Linked DNA regions of Homo sapiens: regions 1 and 2 are each linked to region 3. Evidence: fine-mapped QTL for protein levels in blood plasma. A gene starts in region 3. Each other region holds a variant in brackets. All regions are shown on one strand. Distances are between the middles of the regions.

The links. PIP is the chance, under the fine-mapping model, that this variant and not a neighbour inherited with it causes the effect. Protein levels are from antibody-based Olink assays in UK Biobank. Linkage for the fine-mapping came from a reference panel and not from the study's own genotypes, which makes the PIPs less certain.
Region 1: its variant is fine-mapped to the plasma level of the CPE protein (UK Biobank, PIP above 0.99). The variant lies in the coding sequence of CPE. If it changes the protein, the assay may bind it differently, which can mimic a change of level.
Region 2: its variant is fine-mapped to the plasma level of the CPE protein (UK Biobank, PIP above 0.99).

What each region holds. Positions count from the first base shown.
Region 1 is chr4:165,494,390-165,497,145 of GRCh38, forward strand. CPE (carboxypeptidase E) reads left to right here. Exons shown (of 9, transcript NM_001873.4): 8 at 1,170-1,288. Among named protein-coding and RNA genes, the nearest start is that of MIR578, 110 kb to the left of the region's middle. The variant C/T (reference allele first, on the strand shown) is at 1,224.
Region 2 is chr4:165,339,045-165,341,780 of GRCh38, forward strand. It overlaps MSMO1 (methylsterol monooxygenase 1), which reads left to right. Exons shown (of 6, transcript NM_006745.5): 5 at 1,177-1,331; 6 at 2,707-2,736. Among named protein-coding and RNA genes, the nearest start is that of MSMO1, 13 kb to the left of the region's middle. The variant T/C (reference allele first, on the strand shown) is at 1,604.
Region 3 is chr4:165,377,562-165,380,331 of GRCh38, forward strand. CPE (carboxypeptidase E) reads left to right here and starts at 1,447. Exons shown (of 9, transcript NM_001873.4): 1 at 1,447-1,967. The coding sequence starts at 1,661. RefSeq lists a silencer at 1,480-1,739.

The DNA.
Region 1 (2,756 bases), 120 kb after region 3:
AGCTTTTCAGGGACAAGGTGATAATAAGAAGGAACCAGCAATAGAACTGACGGTAGAAAATGAAGTGTGTTGTACTGAAGGTAGAAAATGAAGTGTGTTGTCCTGGAGGCTTTGAAGTGCTTCAAGAAGAAGGGAGTGAAAAAGCGTTAATTAAGATGAACCTTGTGAATGAATCCTTGGATTTAGCAGTTCAGAGGATCTTGAAAAAATCTGTTCAATGGAGTGAATGGTGGGATCCTGATTGGACTGGGTCCAAGACAGAATAAGAAAAGAACCATTCTGAGATTGAGAACATGAACAAACCTTTCCAGAAATTTTGCTATAAAGCAAAAAGACAATTGAGGCACTAGCTGCAAGGAGATGTAGATTTAGAGGTAGATTTGATGATACGGTGATGGGGGCTTAATTTTTTTGACTGTACCTATTTTTGCAATGAAATAAGATGTAAAGTAACAACTGGGAGGTTGAACAGGATGTGTAGGGGTGTTAGGAAAAAGGAGAAGGTGTGAAGTGTCTACGAAAACCTTGCTCTTCAAAGTGTGGCCTCTGCTCGCAACCTTAGCATTGCCCTGGGGCTGGTCAGGAATGCAGAACCTGGGAGCTGGAATCAGATTTTTCATTTTACCAAGTTCCCAGGTTTGCACCCAAGTTTGAAAATCACTGACTTAGGTAAATGGGAGATTGAATGGACTAGGGTGCCCAGTGTATTCTAAGTCTTTAGAAATCTAAATTTCTAACTAGGACCTCAGAGATCCTACAAGGGCTACCTTTGGCCCACACTCTGTGAAGATTCTCTGACCAGCAGGTCTTCACCTGGCAAGAATCAAAACATGATGGCTGTATGTTCTGACCCTGCTGCTTGGGGAATTCATCTGTCTTTTTACCTGTGTTGCTCCTGATGTGATTAGAAGATCTATGATCGTACGAGGTTTATTAGACAATTTAACATTGATATCTATAAAGTAGCTATAAGAAATGAAGCCTGTAAAGAGAGTTTCACACCCTATTCAATAAAATTTCATTAAATTCCCTATATATTTACTTTAAAAATCGAGAATCAAAAAAGGTGAACTGAGCTAGACTGGGTATTCCTTAGATGGCATAATTATGCATTGTGTAATTCTGCATATTTCATGTGCTTTGTGATTTGATATTCTGCCTTCCTACAGCAAAGGATGGTGATTACTGGAGATTGCTTATACCTGGAAACTATAAACTTACAG[C/T]CTCAGCTCCAGGCTATCTGGCAATAACAAAGAAAGTGGCAGTTCCTTACAGCCCTGCTGCTGGGGTAAGTAATCATAATAATAGCCAAACGCTATAATAATAATTAAGCATTTATCATTGTCAGGCATACTGAAGTGATTTATATTTAATCTTCGTACTAGCCCTATGAGGTAGGCAACATTGTTATCTCAACTTAACAGATGAGAAAACTGAGGCTTAGCAAAGTTAATATGAAGCTCTATTACCATTTCTCAGTTTTTGAAGAGATTTACAAGAAAATGAAATAAAACTTTAAAAAATTAAATTTTTATTTGCTAACCTTGATTTCCATCTCAATGGGATTATGTTTCATTTGCCTTTTTATCTTTAGCACCTAGCGCAGTGCCTTTCTCAATAAGTATTTGAAAAAAAAATGATGCATATAAGAAAATTTTAGGTGGTAACCAAACACTTATTTAGCATATTTTATGTGCAAGGCTCTCTGTGCTAAGTAGTATCAAAAACCATATCTTATTTAAGTAGATCTCATTTGTTTGTTAGGAAGGTGATGGTGATAAGACCAAAACTTCTCTTAGAGCAGAATTTTACTACTACCTTTGTATTATATGCCTGGGACCGTGGGAATACCTGTAGGATTTCTTGAAAGTCTAAAAAGCTTACTTGAAAAGAATTTATTATTATTTTTGTTTATGTACCCAAAACTTGGAGTATAAATGCTTGATTTATGCAAACAAAATATCTTGAGTTTTTAACTGGTATATGGTTTTGATTGTGTGCATGTATGTCTACATTGGGCTGTATATGTATTAAAATCAAGAGGTATATTTGGGTAACTGAAACCTGGAAAAAATGGCCCTGGGAACAAGTTGTAAAGGTTCAACTATTTTGATCCTTTGTCTTTCTGGCATGTGTTAGTGCAAGGATATAGTCAGTGTAATCACGATCCAAAATAATCAGGCGTTTAAGTGGCCAAATCAAGAAACTCTTAGTTCCATCTGGGATGGGGCCTGAGGGGATTGGGGTTGGGGGCTGCCTACTTTGAATAGCCTTTTATGCGGAGTGTGTGGCTTCTCCCTAGACCTGATGAAGATTCCCATTCACAAAGAGAGTGGCTTGGACACATACGTGCTTTTGTCAGTTTCTTTAACAAATTCAAGATTCTGGATAGCAGAACCTTGTGGTTTGGGATACCAGCATGCTGAACTGTATTCTTCCACATTCCCTCCCACATTAGGAAAAGATTCAAGGCTGACAGGAGGTGCTCACTAAATAACCAAAGGCAGAAAATTAACTATAAGTTACATCCTCTTTTTTTCTTTTCTTTTTTGAGACAGAGTCTTGCTCTGTCGCCCAGGCTGGAGTGCAGTGGCACGATCTTGGCTCACTGCAAGCTCTGCCTCCCGGGTTCAAGAAATTCTCCTGCCTCAGCCTCCTGAGTAGCTGGGATTACAGCGTGCGCCACCGTGCCCGGCTAATTTTTGTATTTTTAGCAGAGATGTGGTTTCACCATGTTGGTCAGGCGGGCCTCGAAT
Region 2 (2,736 bases), 39 kb before region 3:
AGATCCTCACATTGCTAACTCCCACAAAAACAGTAACTTCTATGAGCACTGCTTTTTTTTTTTTTTTTTTTTTTTTTGAGATAGAGTTTTGCTCTTGTTGCCCAGGCTGGACTGCAATGGCATGATCTCAGCTCACTGCAACCTTCACCTCCTGGGTTCAAGCAATTCTCCTGCCTCAGCCTTTCAGGTAGCTGGGATTACAGGCATGCGTCACCACGCGTGGCTAATTTTGTATTTTTAGTAGAGACAGGATTTCACTATGTTGGTCAGGCTGGTCTCGAACTCCTGACCTCAGGTGATCCACCCGCCTTGGACTCGCAAAGTGCTGGGATTACAGGCGTGAGCCACCATGCCCGGCCAATTAGAATTGCTTTGATGTAGCTTTGTCAACTGGTTATGTGAGTATGTTTTGCATTGACCGTGATTACATGGTGTGCCAAATCAAGCCTCTCTTTATTAGAAGAACAAATATAAATACTTAAGTCAAAATTAGAGTTCAAGTCAATTATTTAATGCCTTTATCTTAAACCATCAAAGACAGCAAGATTTTATATCCCTAGACTTTTGATGTGGAGTAAGGTATTTTTATTGAGAATTGCTAGTATTATTTATAAGTGTATGACTAGATAAATCATCACTACATATAGAATCAATATAACTTTGTAAAACTTTATGCATAAATAGGATATATATATTAGTGAAGTCTCCAGTGAAGCAGAATCATTGGGGTATATATATGCAGAGAGAGATTTATTTTAAGGAATCAGCTCATGCAAGTGTGCGGCTGTCAAGTCTGAAATCTGTAAAGCAGGCTACAGACTAGAAATCCAGGTAAGAATTGTTGCAGCCTTGGGTCCAAATTCCATGGAGCAGCAAGTTGGAAACTCAGGCAGGGTTTCAGTGTTGCAGTCTCGAGAATCCTTCTTCAGGAAACCTCAGCCTTTTATCCTGAAGGCCTTCAAATGATTGGATGAAGCCCACCCTCATTATGAAGGGTAATCACCTTTACTCAGTCTACTGATTTAAATGTTAACAACATCTAAAAAATACCTTCACAACAACATCTAGACTGGTATTTAATCAAACAGTTGGATATCATAGCCTAGCCAAGTTGACACATAAAATTGACCATCACAATAGCTAAGAAATTAAGAATTTCTTATCTGTTTGTCTTAGGCTCCATTTGGAATGGAAGCTGAATATGCACATCCTTTGGAGACTCTAATTCTTGGAACTGGATTTTTCATTGGAATCGTGCTTTTGTGTGATCATGTAATTCTTCTTTGGGCATGGGTGACCATTCGTTTATTAGAAACTATTGATGTCCATAGGTGAGTATTAATTTCTGTTCAGGTATAAAGCATAATGAAATATATTTATTTTCATGGCCATAAGATTATCATATTTCTAAGGAGACTAATAGGAGAAGTTAATCTTCTTAATGTTATATTAAGAAAACATAACTGTTGGATAAAAGTTTAAATAATAGATGTTTTTACATTCTAGCCTATGCTGTTATAATTTTTATAGTGATAATGTGTTATTAGGGCAAGTATATATTCAGGACCAGCAATTTCCTTATCCTTCTGTAATAAACCTAAAC[T/C]TAACTCATATTTGAAAAAAATATCAAAGCATTCAGCCTTCCTTGAATAAGACTTTCTAATCTCTACTGTTCAGCACTGATAAAGGCACTTGCAAGATGAAACTACTACTTGTAACACATACATATTTCAAATGCATCCTTTCTGTTGATTGGAAGACATTTTGTGGTAAATTATTTATATTGAATGCCTTCTTAAATGCTTATCCTAATTGTTCATTATTTTTTAATTATATGTTCATTGCATTTTGACTTGGGACATACTTCTGTACTCATGAATGCAGAATATCAAATTCTAAGAATTATTTTTAAAGTGCTAAAGTAGCAAAATTAATGCTTCTAGTCCTAGGCAGAGAATATTCTTCTGTAGAAAAATTGTAATTGACATTTCTTTCTTTTTTTTTTCTATCCATTGTTTCTTTCTGCCTTCCTTCCTCTAAGCTCCTCAAAGGAAGAGAGGGTTAGAGTGATTCAAATAAGTATAACTGGATGTCTGATTGTAGATATGTAGTTGGAAATAAAGGAGCATACTTTAAATGGGACTCTTTTTTGAAGCCATTTGTCTTCTGCCAACTATAGAAAAGTACACTGGTATTTTGATTAATTGTGGTACATTTGATTCCAACTTGTCATTGCCTAAAAAAGTAAATGAAGTTGCTATACAGGGATTCATGGGCCTGCCCTTTTTAATACTTGATACTAATTTTATGTGACTTTTCCTAAAAAACATATTTAGTATTTTGGGCTTTATTTACAACTGTTATACATGATGGTGAGAAAGCTTCCTCTAAAACATAAAAGAAAATTAATTCTTAAAAATCTGTGTCTAAAGATTCATTACTATAATCCGTCTCTTCCATCATTCATATATTTTATCATAAAATAAATGATTTTCTTAGTTTTTTTAAGGATTTTTTTTCTTAGAGTGGTTTCTAGAATATACACCATTTTCTGTGTTTGCTGTTTGTGAACACTTAGAAATAAAGTGGTCTAGGCAAAGTGGCATGTTATCTAAATTGGTTAATGTGAACACATGATTATTAATAAAAACAACAATCATTTGAGATGTATTTATTCCTTAATAATCTTTATCATTTTTGTTTCAGTGGTTATGATATTCCTCTCAACCCTTTAAA
Region 3 (2,770 bases):
AAGTTATTTGGTTTTAGCTACTCAATTTTTTTTTCTAGGCTTCCAAGGTTGCTGTTTTGGGCATGGTTTTAGAAATATAATTATAAGTTTGATTTCAAACTTCTGGACCATGTAATCAAGCACAGACTGGTCATAGTGGAAAATATACAATTTTTAGCTCTGCCTACATTGACAAAAAAAAAAATGGCTGGATCCACATCAATTCAACTTGAGTGCCATGTGTTTACAGTGACAGTTTCTCCCCGAAAACGCAAAAAAAAAAAAAAAAAAAAAAAGAAGATCCATGCTGCTGTAGTATATGTACATAGGGGTGTTTAAAGCCAGCCCCTCCAGCAGCACCTTACCAACCATGTCTGTGCTTTTATTTATTGATCCAATAAGATGACTTAAATATCTAACTCCTTTTCCACGTAAAAGTTTTTATTATGTGCAATGCATTGTTAAACAGGTGAAGAATGAACAAGTTTAGAAAAACAAAGAAGCTTAACATGGAAAATTACCCGCATGGTGTCCACTTTTCCTGCTCGGTTGCAATACCCAATGGATTATTTATTAATTTAGATTTGTGCTGTCCCTGAATCCAAACAGCAGCCTCTTTAGAGTAACATCTGCTCCAGACATTGCTCCAGGAATATAAATCCCGACTAAGGGGTGGATATTTAAAGCTGTAAATGATTTTTTATTTTTACAATAGCTTTGCAAAAGGAACGGAGGTGTCATGTCATCATCAGAGTTTTCTTAACAGGATTTAATCTTAATGCCAAACTAAATCCTTTGTCTAAAGCATCAGCAGAGTTGTACTTATTTTCCCCATAGTATTAAAGAGGAGGGCTGGTGCAGGCACAGCCATATGACATTGCCTTATTTATTTTGTCTGTTTGTTTTCTGGAAGAATCTAGGAATGTGCATAAATACAATTAAGGACAGTATCTACAAATTGGAAGAAAGCATTTCTATTCTCTTAAACCTCTAAATCAAAGCACTTAATGTTCTGATTTCCAGCAAGACCTTCTAATAAATGAAAACCCAACCCTTGGGTTTGTGTTTTGACTCTTGATACAATTATGAAAGACGCATCAGGAGATGGCAAGTGGCTGCCAGTACTTCCTTTTTTCTGGAATATTCTCTAATTCTTGGTGGATCAAGATGGAAACTGGTAGGCTTGGAATAGATGTCCCTTTAAAAGGCTCCACTAACAATACAAGAATATTTTTTCCATACGCAGTGACGTGGGTGGGTCATGGGTGTCTCAATGACAGTAACGTTCCCGAACCCCGGACCTTAGCTGTCATTTCACCTGCGTCGTCCCGGACGCCATTTGGCTGTTGACGTGGTTCCGAGCCAGCAAATAACGCCAGCAGCCCTCCCAGATCCACGCCGGCCCGTCTCTCCGCCGGCCCCCTCCTCGCAGTGGTTTCTCCTGCAGCTCCCCTGGGCTCCGCGGCCAGTAGTGCAGCCCGTGGAGCCGCGGCTTTGCCCGTCTCCTCTGGGTGGCCCCAGTGCGCGGGCTGACACTCATTCAGCCGGGGAAGGTGAGGCGAGTAGAGGCTGGTGCGGAACTTGCCGCCCCCAGCAGCGCCGGCGGGCTAAGCCCAGGGCCGGGCAGACAAAAGAGGCCGCCCGCGTAGGAAGGCACGGCCGGCGGCGGCGGAGCGCAGCGATGGCCGGGCGAGGGGGCAGCGCGCTGCTGGCTCTGTGCGGGGCACTGGCTGCCTGCGGGTGGCTCCTGGGCGCCGAAGCCCAGGAGCCCGGGGCGCCCGCGGCGGGCATGAGGCGGCGCCGGCGGCTGCAGCAAGAGGACGGCATCTCCTTCGAGTACCACCGCTACCCCGAGCTGCGCGAGGCGCTCGTGTCCGTGTGGCTGCAGTGCACCGCCATCAGCAGGATTTACACGGTGGGGCGCAGCTTCGAGGGCCGGGAGCTCCTGGTCATCGAGCTGTCCGACAACCCTGGCGTCCATGAGCCTGGTAAGGGCGCTGCCCCCTGACAGCCCTGGGGGCATCCCGGAGGGGGGCGGCAGAGGGTGGGACTGGTGGCGGTGGGGGAAGGAGGGAGGGATGGGCCCAGGGGTGCCTCTTGGTAAAAGGTATCTAAGGTGGAAGGTGGGAAGTGGAGGGAGGGATGGAAATGGGGAAGAACCCGACTTAGAGCGCCAGTGGCCCAATTTCTGCTTTCCCGTCCCATCCCCCCAGCACCAATCCCATCTCCCCAGACCTTAGGCCACCCTCTAGTAAGTATAGGCTTGGGAGGCTGGGGTGGCGGGGGATGGGGGGGATAGCAATACAGAAAAAACAAATCCTGACGCACGCAACCCCAGCGGTCGCTCTCACTTTGCTGTGTGAAAAACCCAAAGGAATGATTGCGAGTCCCCCGCAAGGGGGGTTGGTCTTCCTTGCTGACAAGAGTAGAAAGATAAGGTGCAGAAGGCAGTGATTGAGAGGAAAGGAGAACGAGGGAGAAAGAGTCATTTATCATGTTTTCTCTAATTTCCAGAGGACCAGTTTATTGGCTCTGTGTACCCATCTCTACCTGTGTGTGTATACGTATTAGGTACACTCGCTGCTGTGGATGCTTGGGGAATCTTAGGGATATTGCCAATCTGGGGTGGTGGTGTATAAAGATACGTTGGTGCCCCTCCTCCTACCAGGGTGAAAAGTGGTTTCTGACTTTTGAAACCAGATTTTGAAACTGCACAAGGCCTTTCCAAGGAAAAAGGAGTATTCCATTTTCTCTGCTATAACCATTTGAGATGAATAGTTTGTGATGGGGT